Linked DNA regions of Homo sapiens. The protein of the gene in region 3 purifies or fractionates together with the protein of the main gene of each other region. This does not show direct contact. Each region holds a gene or a part of one and is shown on either strand. Other genes may lie near its edges. The genes, in order: ALDH3A2, SUPT5H and NELFB.

The links.
Region 1: the proteins of NELFB (region 3) and ALDH3A2 purify together in Homo sapiens (affinity purification with mass spectrometry, with the first as the bait; one study listed by BioGRID). This does not show direct contact.
Region 2: the proteins of NELFB (region 3) and SUPT5H purify together in Homo sapiens (affinity purification with western blotting; 2 studies listed by BioGRID and IntAct, with this or other methods). This does not show direct contact.

The regions. Positions count from the first base shown.
Region 1 is NC_000017.11:19,675,289-19,678,113, reverse strand, and holds the end of ALDH3A2 (aldehyde dehydrogenase family 3 member A2), read right to left. Parts: intron 2,557-2,825; coding exon 2,542-2,556; coding exon of another isoform or gene 2,489-2,541; 3' UTR 518-2,488; downstream 1-517.
Region 2 is NC_000019.10:39,462,492-39,466,143, forward strand, and holds part of SUPT5H (transcription elongation factor SPT5), read left to right. Parts: intron 1-2,306; coding exon 2,307-2,558; intron 2,559-3,652. UniProt on the Homo sapiens protein: Component of the DRB sensitivity-inducing factor complex (DSIF complex), which regulates mRNA processing and transcription elongation by RNA polymerase II.
Region 3 is NC_000009.12:137,261,796-137,265,447, reverse strand, and holds part of NELFB (negative elongation factor B), read right to left. Parts: intron 2,412-3,652; coding exon 2,226-2,411; intron 1,204-2,225; coding exon 1,091-1,203; intron 1-1,090. UniProt on the Homo sapiens protein: Essential component of the NELF complex, a complex that negatively regulates the elongation of transcription by RNA polymerase II.

The DNA.
Region 1 (2,825 bases), on a different chromosome or scaffold from region 3:
GAGAAATACTTGTTCTTACTGAACTTTTTCTTCTAGTAGTGACATGATATAAATAAGGGCACAAAACAAGTAGGAACAGAGCACAGCAAAGTCATCATGGAAGCAATTCCAGACTCTATGCCACTGTTTGCCCAAGTGTGGTCCATGGTTAACAGGTATTAAGGTAAACGGCTCCGCGGTCAAGGAAGTCTGGGAGCTGCACACACTAGCACTTCAGAGGTTCCAAATGACCTGGGTCCTTTAGTTTGCTGATGTGCTTTACAAGCCAGTGGTATACAGGACTGGTGGCAGGACCATTTTTTTGTGTAAAATCTTGCGGGATTAGTGTTCTACAAATATGCTTACAGAAACACTTGTTCTAGATCAGCAACTGGGGGTAGGAGGATGCCACTGGAAAAACCTATTTACTATAGCTACTAACCACCACCCCCAACACACACAGCAGAACATAAAGTTTGAGAAAATCTTCTCAGCTAAGAATTTTAAAATGAGAAAAAAAAAGTTGACAAATACCATCTATGATAAAGACATAAAATGATTTATAGTTGGGGAGAATTTATGATCAAAGGATTGTCTCCAATAGGGTATATCTGAGGTTCCATACCAGGAGCGTCATTAAAATTGATGCCAATTTTATGAAATATGTTCATTTTGAAGCAGATGTGTATTAGTAGACAAGCCAATAATTTAAACATACTCAATGAAAATTCCATAGTGCAATTTTATCTAAGGTATTTTATGATTACTCTCTTAGAGCCACAGTTTTAAGCAGCTTTTTCCTAAACTAGGCTCGTTATTAATTTTCAACACTTCATACTATGATGAAGACATCACATACTTTAGACAGCCTTAATAGAACAAATTATTCAACAAAGTTGATTATACGTTCTATAAAGTAAATCACATTCTCTCATTGAGTGAGCTGAGTCTTTTTGAGTGTGGGGACAGAGTCCCTGCAGTCAGGAGCTCCAAGGCATAGAACTGCCTGCCCTGCTCTGTCCAGCAGGTAATGCTGCATTCCACAGGCCTCTTCTTCAGCCTTGCCCACTCAGCAGAGTACCTCAGGTTGTGACCATGAACGACTGATGAGAGTAACTTCTGACTTGCTCAGGGGATCCTCTTGCCATCAATTCCCTTCAGTATGACCAACCGCAGTGGCTTACTCGCTTCTTGTCCAGACCATCCACCATCTGTCTGCCCCATGATGCTCTCAAACCCCAAAGTCCTAATATCCCAGGCCTCTTTGTCTGTGAGAGGAAATGGTTCCCTCACTTTAAGTTCTGTAGGCTAATCAGAAAGGGATCTCTCTATAGTTTCAAAAAGTGAAATTTTACTTGCACTACAGAAATAAGAAACTTACAGATTTGTCCTTGAAGACCTACTAACCTGCAACTTTAGGGTCCTGAAAGAGGATTAGTATGTTTATAAGTACTTTTATTACAGTATTTTTTATTTGTTTCGGAGACAGGGTCTTGCTCTGTTGCCCAAGCTGAAGTGCAGTGGTGCAATCACAGCCTGCTGCAGCCTTGGCCTCGCAGGCTCAATCAATCCTCCTGCTTCAGCCTCCTAAGCAGCTGGGAACACAGGCTCATGCCACCACATCTAGCTAATTTTTATTTTTTGATAGAGATGAGGTCTCACTGTGTTGTCCAGGCTGGTCTCAAATTCCTGGACTCAAGCAATCCTCCCACCTCGGCCTCCCAAAGTGCTGGGATTACAGGCATGAGCCACCACGCCCGGCCACAGTATTTTTTAAATGCCAGTTAGGTTTTATAAGATGTAGAATTCTATAACTCCAACACAAGAATGACAGGTGATGCTTGCATGACTTTGGCAACTAACTTCCAGGAAGCCCTAGGATTTACAAGATGCTTTGAGTGACATTAGTCACAAGAGATTGTTGCAACTAAACAGAACACAGGATGATAAAGAATGAATGAGGAAGAATGAAGACCACTGGTGAGATGGCACTTCTGACCAGGGGCCTACTCCTGGAGGTCAAGTCCTTGAGTCCCATTGGAGGAGGAGTAACCCCTCCCTTCCCCACATAGAGTTTTAGTGCCTGAAACCTCACAGGGAACCAAGAAGATCTAATCTCACCTCTCTGGACTACAGAGGACTGCCGGTAGCCCTGGGAAGTACCAAGCTCTTGAAAGCTTCACACAGTGATGGTGGCAGCAGAGGCAGGAAGTGAGCAGTGCCATTAACTGGAGTGAAGGATTCAGTGAGGTTCTGAGACTCCCTTACAACCCCGCAGTTTGTATTTAGTCTAATACATTCTCCTCCCCTAGCTCAAAGTTCCAAGATTTAGATAAGCACAATTTAAGACAGGTTCCCTGAATACCCTATTAGGGAATGTTGGGACGTAGTTGAAATGGCAACTTTTATTAATGATGAATGGCAATGACTTTTAAGTTTGATCACAGAGTGTTTGCATATTTTCTTACTATTTTTGGTATGATTTAAAAATTATTGGTTCATTAACCATTTAAAAGAGGAATAATTCAGTAGAGGCACTAGGAGGTTGAACAGGATCATTCTTCAGTAATATTCTGCCTGGAGAGAGGAAAAAAGGATTCAGTTTACTCAGCTGCTTTAAAAACCTACCCACAACCAGCCTTGCAACACAAGCTCAGCACTGGGACTCAGACACCTCCTGTCTGAAGAGACTCTACATGCATTGTACAAAAAAGGACTACATATCCCTAGGAAGCCTAGGAAGCACGGTTTAGGCCAAAGGATTATGCCCTTCCTCAAAAAACAACAATAACAATAAGAGTAAGACAACGTGATAATGAAGGCTATATTCTGTCCACTGTCAACTA
Region 2 (3,652 bases), on a different chromosome or scaffold from region 3:
AAGACTCATCCATATTGTAGCATATATCAAGACTTCATTTTTTTGTTTGTTTTTTTGAGATGGAGTTTTACTCTTCTTGCCCAGGCTAGAATGTAATGGTGCAGTCTTGGCCCACTGCAACCACTGCCTCCCAGGCTCAACTGATTCTCCTGTCTCAATCTCCCAAGTAGCTGGGATTACAGGCACCCGACACCACGCCTGGCTAATTTTTGTGTTTTTAGTAGAGATAGGGTTTCAGCATGTTGGCCAGGCTGGTCTCGAACTCCTGACCTCAGGTGATCGGCCCACCTCGGCCTCCCAAAGTGTTGGGATTACAGGCGTGAGCCACTGTGCCCAGCCTTAATTTTCTTTTTTTTTTTTTTTTTTGAGACAGAGTCTCGCACCGTTGCCCAGGCTGGAGTGCAATGATGCGATCTCGGCTCACCGCAACCTGCACCTCCCGGGTTCAAGCGATTCTCCTGCCTCAGCCTCCCAAGTAGCTGGGATTACAGGCACCCACCACCATGCCCAGCTAATTTTTTTTTTTTTTTTTTTTTTGGTATTTTTAGTAGAGATGGGGTTTCACCATGTTGGCCAGGCTGACCTTGAACTCCTGACCTCAGATGATCCACCCCTCAGCCTCCCAAAGTGCTGGGATTACAGGCATGAACCCACTGCGCCTGGCCAACCGGCCTTAATTTTTGTATTTTTAGTAGAGGCAAGGTTTCACCATGTTGGCCAGGCTGGTATTGAACTCCCGACCTCAAGTGATCCTCCTGCCTCGGCCTCCCAAAGTGCTGGGATTACAGGCATGAGCCACCGCTCCTGGCCTTTTTTTTCTTTTAGTTGGTATTTACAGCTATACATTTACTTCTAAGCATGGCTTTTTTCAAATCTCATAAGTTTTGGTATCTAGGAGTGTGTTGCCATGTATTTGTGAATTTCCTAAGTATCTTTCTGTTGGTTTTTAACTTCATTACATATGGATGGAGAATATACTTTATATGATTTTAGTTCTTTTATGTTTACTGAGACGTGTTTTATGGCCTAACCTGTGGTTTATTCTGGAAAGTTTAATATGCCCTTGAGAAGAAAGTGCATTCTGCTGTTGTTAGATGGAGTGTTCTTTTTTCCCATTTCCGCTTAATAAGTGGAAAGTGAAGACGAAATGTTCTGTCTATAGCTGGCTATTAGGTTTAGGTGGCTTACAGTGTTGCTCAAGTGTTCTCTTTCCTTGTTGATCTTGGGTCTAGCTCTATCCATGATTGAAAGCAGGGTATTGCAGTCAGTGATTGTTACTGTTGAGTTGTCAGTTTCTTCCTTCATTTTCATTAGTTTCTGCTTCATGTATTTTGAGGCTCTGTTAGTTTCATATACATTTGTAATTCTATCTTCCTGATGGATTGACCTTTTTATTGTTACAAAATGTTTTTTGTTGTCTCTGGTAGCAATTTTTGTCTTAAAGTATATTTTGTCTGATGTAAGCACTCCTTTCTTGGTTCTTCTTCTAGTTGCTTTTTTTTTTTTTTTGAGACGGAGTTTTGCTCTTATTGCCCAGACTGGAGTGCAATGGTGCGATCTCAGCTTACCGCAACCTCCACCTCCCGGGTTCAAGCGACTCTTCTGCCTCAGCCTCCCGTGTAGCTGGGATGACAGGCATGTGCCACCACACCCGGCTAATCTTGGATATTTTTAGTAGAGACAGGGTTTCTCCGTGTTGGTCAGGCTGGTCTTGAACTCTTGACCCCAAGTGATCCACCCGCCTCGGCCTCCCAAAGTGCTGGGATTACAAGCATGAGCCACCGTGCCCGGCTCTAGTTGCTTTTTTACACAGAACATATGTTGGATAGCTTTCTATATTAGTACATACAGGTTAATCTAATTTTTATTTTATTTTTTATTTTTAAGAGACAGGGTTTCACTCTGTTGCCCAGGCTGGAGTGCAGTGGTGCGATCTCAGCTCACTGCAGCCTCAACCTCCCGGGCTCAAGCAGTCCTCCCTGCTCAGCCTCCTGAGTAGCTGGGACTACAGGCATGTGCCATCACACCCAGCTAGTTTTTGTATTCTTTAACTGCAACATTGTATTTCATGGTACATTAAGCCATAAGTTAACTAGTTACTGTTTCTGGATATTTTTAAAATTTTTAGTCTGGTTTGTTTGCTGTGATAAATAATTCTGCAGGGAACACCTTTGTGTCCATGTCATTGTGCCAGTGTGTTTCTGTGGAATAAATTCCTAGAAGAGGGACTGCTGATGAGTGGCAGTCATTTCTGTTATTAGCCGTTGTGTCTCACTGTTTCCTCCTTCCACCGGCTCACCCTGCAGCCCCTGCAGATCAAGTCAGTAGTGGCACCAGAGCATGTGAAGGGCTACATCTACGTGGAGGCCTACAAGCAGACCCACGTGAAGCAGGCCATTGAGGGGGTGGGCAACCTGCGGCTTGGCTACTGGAACCAGCAGATGGTGCCCATCAAGGAGATGACAGACGTGCTCAAAGTGGTGAAGGAGGTGGCCAACCTGAAACCAAAGTCCTGGGTCCGCCTCAAGCGGGGCATCTACAAGGATGACATTGCTCAGGTGCCCGGGGCGGGGTGGCATGGGGGTCAGGGTCCCTCCATTCTGTTCTCCCTTCCTTTCCTTTTGTCCTTCCCACCCTCTTTGTGCTGCAGAGAATAGAATCCCACTCAGATGAGTTGAAGCAGAGCCTGGGTTTTGTGAGCACACAGGAAACGGTTGGCTGTCTTCTGTGCACATTCCCAGGCGTGTTGAGTAAAGGTCTGAAGGATCGGAGGGCGTGAGGCATGTGGAGCTCTTGGGGAGGAGTGTTGTAGGCAGCAGGAGTGGCCTGTGAGATAGGATGGCACAGTCACTGGCTACAGCAGGGATGGCGTGAGATGAGTTAGGGAGCTCACGAGGGCCTGCGGCCCATTGGAGAGCTTTGGTGTTTACTGGCGTAGGATGGGAGGGCTGTAAGGGACACAGGCAGACTTCAATGTTAATAAGATTTCTCTGGTGACTGTGTTGAGACTAGACCACTGGTTCTCAAGCCAGGGTGATGTTTCCCCAGGGGACATTTGGTAACGTCTGGAGACATTTTTGGTTATGTCAGCTGGGGAGGGGGTTGACGATTATGGCATCTAGCAGGTTAAAGCCAGAAATGCTAGACACACACATCCTCCAATGCACAGGATGGCTGCCCACAACAAAAAATTACCTGGCCCAAAAAGTCAATAGTGCCAAGGCTGAGAAACCCGGGAATAGCCTGGAGGGGGCCATGGGCAAGAGCGTGGAGACCAGGGAGGAGGCTGCTGCTGTAGCACATCCCACCCAGATGGCAGTGCTGGTGGGATAGGACCAAGACCCTAATACACGTTGAGTGTCTCTAACCTGAATTCTTGAGACCACAGGTGTTTTTCAGATTTCAGATTTTTTCAGCTTTTGGAATATTTGCATTATACTTACCGGTTGAGCATCCCAAATCTGAAAATCCAAGAGTGAGCATTTCCTTCGAGCATCATGTTGGTGCTCACAGGGTTTCCTATTTTTGAGCATTTTGGGTTTTTGGATTTGGAATGCTGAGACTGCAGTGGAGGAGGGGAAGAGGTCAGGTATTTTGAAGGCAGAGCTGATGGAATTTGCCAACGGGTCGGGTGTGGGTGTAAGAGAAACAA
Region 3 (3,652 bases):
CACTGCACTCCAGCCTGGGCAAGAGAGCGAGACTCTGTCTCAAAAAAAAAAAAAAAAAAAGCTTAAGGTTTGCAATTTGTCCTTAACCTATTCAAAGATTTTTCAAATTAAAAAGTTAAAAAAACAAACAAAAAAAAGGCTGGGTGTGGTGGCTCACGCCTGTCATCCCAGCACTTTGGGATGCTGAGGCCGGTGGATTGTTTGTTTGAGACTAGCCCGGGCGAGGTGGTGAAATCCCATCTCTACTAAAGATAACAAAAATCGGCCAGGCGCACTGGTGTGTGCCTGTAATCCCAGCACTTTGGGAGGCGGAGACAGCAGGATCAATGCCCAGGAGGTTGAGGGAGACTGTACCACTGCACTAAAGCCTGGGTGACAGAGACCCTGTCTCAGAAAAAAAAAAAAAAAAAAAAAAAGGAAGAAAAAAAGTGGCAAAGGCAGGGCCAGGCAGCACTGTGTCTATACACCAGCCAGAGGATGCTGGAAAGCAAATGCCAATGGATGCCCCTCAGCTCAGAGGCTGACCCCACGCCACTGCAGACACCAGACCCCAGCCCCTGGGCCTGGCTCCAGAATGCAGAGTTGAGGAGGGAGACTTTGCTACCCACACACATCCCGACAACCATGTCCCTAAGCTGTGGGCCAGCAGTGCCCGGCATAGCTCTATTGAAACATCCAGGAGGCCAGGCACGGTGGCGCATGCCTGTAATCCCAGCACTTTGGAAGGCTGAGGCGGGTGGATCACCTGAGGTCAGGAGTTCAAGACAAGCCTGGCCAACATGGTGAAACCCTGTCTCTACTAAAAAATACAAAAATTACCTGAGCGCAGTGGCGCGTGCCTGTAATCCCAGCTACTTGGGAGGCTGAGGCAGGAGAATGGCTTAAGCCTAGGAGGCGGAGGTTGCAGTGAGCAGAGATTGCACCACTGCACTCCATCCTGGGCTACAGAACGAGACTCTGTCTCGAAAAAAACAAAAGAAAAAGCAATATCCGGGAATAAACGCCTGCTACCCACGGCAAAACACAGCAAGCGCAGACCGGATGCACGCAGGGCCCTGAGGGGCAGAGGCCTCGTGGAGCCGACCCTCACCCCAGCACCTGCTCCTGGCCCTTCTTGACGCCATCGAGAAACCCCTGCAGCTCCCGCGCCCTCTTGCTGTCCACGAACCGCTCTCGGATGCAGGCGTCCAGGCACCAGGTGAACTGCAAGGAGGAAGCACGGTCGGGACCAGCCCAAACCTCCCAGGATGACCAGAGACCCAGGCCCCAAACACAGCTCCAGGCCCTGGCCTCTTGTTCAATCATAGCTGCTGCGGGGGGCGGCAGCAGGCACCAGTCATCCTGACGGTGCAGTGTTCCCCACACCTCCCGGCCAAAGCAGCAGGGTCAGGACAGTGGTGGAGAAAGTGATGATGTTTCTTTCTAAAAACGGACTCCTTCATGGCACCCTGAGTGTGGGGGTGGCCACTGCAGCACTCCAAGCAATGGAAGCCTCGGAGGGTGACTCCCAAGTCCCGGAAAGATGGTCTCAGGGCTGGAGGGTCCGTATGAAGGGAAACCCCGTTCCTAGAGCACTTGGTACCTGGCCAACAAGCAGCACCCAGGGTTCTGGGGAAGGGGAGGGCCACAGGCCAGGTGGAAAGATGGGAGGAAGCTGGGGCAATGGTCAAGGTCCAGCCCGTAGGTCATACAGCCCTCGGGAACACAGAAAGGGCTGGACGGGGCAAGGGAGTCCCCGGGAACGGCCAGGTCTCTGGCTCAGATGCAGGGGACTAGCCTCCTTCCCCCATCAGGGTCTGGAGAGAAGCCAAAGGGCCAGCACACAGGACAGAAAGACCAGAGCCCAGGAAACAGGCATGGGAGAGAAGGGCGCCCAGGTGGTCCCGGGCCAAGCCAAACCCACGGAGAGGAGAGGAGCCAGGAGGGCCAGGGGGAAGGAGGGAGGGCAATGCTACCTTCAGGAGGGGCAGAGGGGGAAGGAGAGAGGGCCGGGGAGTTGGGGGGAAGGAGGGAGGGAGGGCAGCGCTACCTTCAGGAGGGCGGAGGGGGAGGAGGGAGGGCCGGGGAGCGGGGGAGAAGGGAGAAGGAGGGAGGGAGGGAGGGCAGCGCTACCTTCAGGAGGGCAGTGGGGGAAGGAGGGAGGGCCGGGGAGTGGGAGGGAAGGAGGGAGGGAGGGCAGCACTACCTTCAGGAGGGTAGGGGGGAAGGAGGGAGGGCAGTGCTACCTTGTGGCACGGGTCCACGGTGCAGATTTCACCCACGTCCAGGTCGTGCAGGGACATGAGCAGCTCAGCCCGCAGCGTGCAGTAGTGCACATTCCGCGTGCGCAGGAAGAGCGTGCGCAGAAACTGCAGCACCATGTCGTACAGCTTCACGTTCTTCCCCACCATCCGCGTCAGCCGCTGCACCACCTGCAGCAAGAGGCACTGTCAGGCCCCCAGACCGTCCTGGGCTCCGCCAGACACAGGGACGTCACGCCCGGCGACAGCGCGGCCCTCTCTCTGGACATCTGTCCTTCCTACTTTTTGGCAGAAAACATTCCCTCCTCTCATTAAATATTGGCCCCCAGTCTGATGGTAGCAGGTTCTGTTATTTTTATTTTTTTTATTACTTTTTTTGAGACAAGGCCTTGCTCTGTTGCCCAGGCTCGAGTGCACTGCTGCAACTGTGGCTCACTGCAGCCTTGACCTCCTGGCTCAAGTGATCCTCCTGCCTCAGCCTCCCAAGTAGCTGGGACTACAATTGCATGCCACGACACCCAACTGTGGGCAGCAAGCCACCCAGGTGCCAAGGCAAGAGACCAAGGGCACGAGCTGTTCCAGTATAACAAAATATGCAAGAATAGTTATATTAGATATAGATCATAGATATGATTATATTTGAATATTAGTCATTAGCTTGTAGCAATTACTCTTTATTCCAATATTATAACAATCCTCGCTCTACAATCATAATCTAGGAAAAACCAGGCCATACAGAGATAGGAGCTGAGGGGACATAGTGAGGTGTGACCAGAAGACAAGAGTGCGAGCCTTCTGTTATGCCTGGACAGGGCCACCAGAGGGCTCCTTGGTCTAGCGGTGACGCCAGCATCTGGGAAGACGCCCGTTGCCAGGCGGACCAGGGTCTAGCGGTAGCGAAAAATGTGAAGGAACAACACCCGCTACTTAGCAGACAGGGAAAGGGAGTCTCCCTTTCCCCGGGGGAGTTTAGAGAAAACTCTGCTCCTCCACCTCTTGTGGAGGGCCTGACATCAGTCAGACCTGCCCGCAGTTATCCAGAGGCCTAACCGTCTCCCTGTGATGCTGTGCTTCAGTGGTCACGCTCCTTGTCCGCCTTCATGTTCCATCCTGTACACCTGGCTCTGCCTTCTAGATAGCAGTAGTCAATTAGTGAAAGTACTAAAAGTCTCTGATACGCAGAAATAACGGCGTAAGCTGTTTCTCTCTCTCCTCTCTCTCTCTCTCTGCCTAGGCTGCCAGGCAGGGAAGGGCCCCCTGTCAAGCGGACACGTGAACCACGTGACCTTACCTATCATTGGAGATGGCTCACACTCTTTACCCTGCCTCTTTGTCTTGTATCCAATAAATATCAGCGCAGCCTGACATTCGGGGCCACTACCAGTCTCCGCGTCTTGGTGGTAATGGTCCCC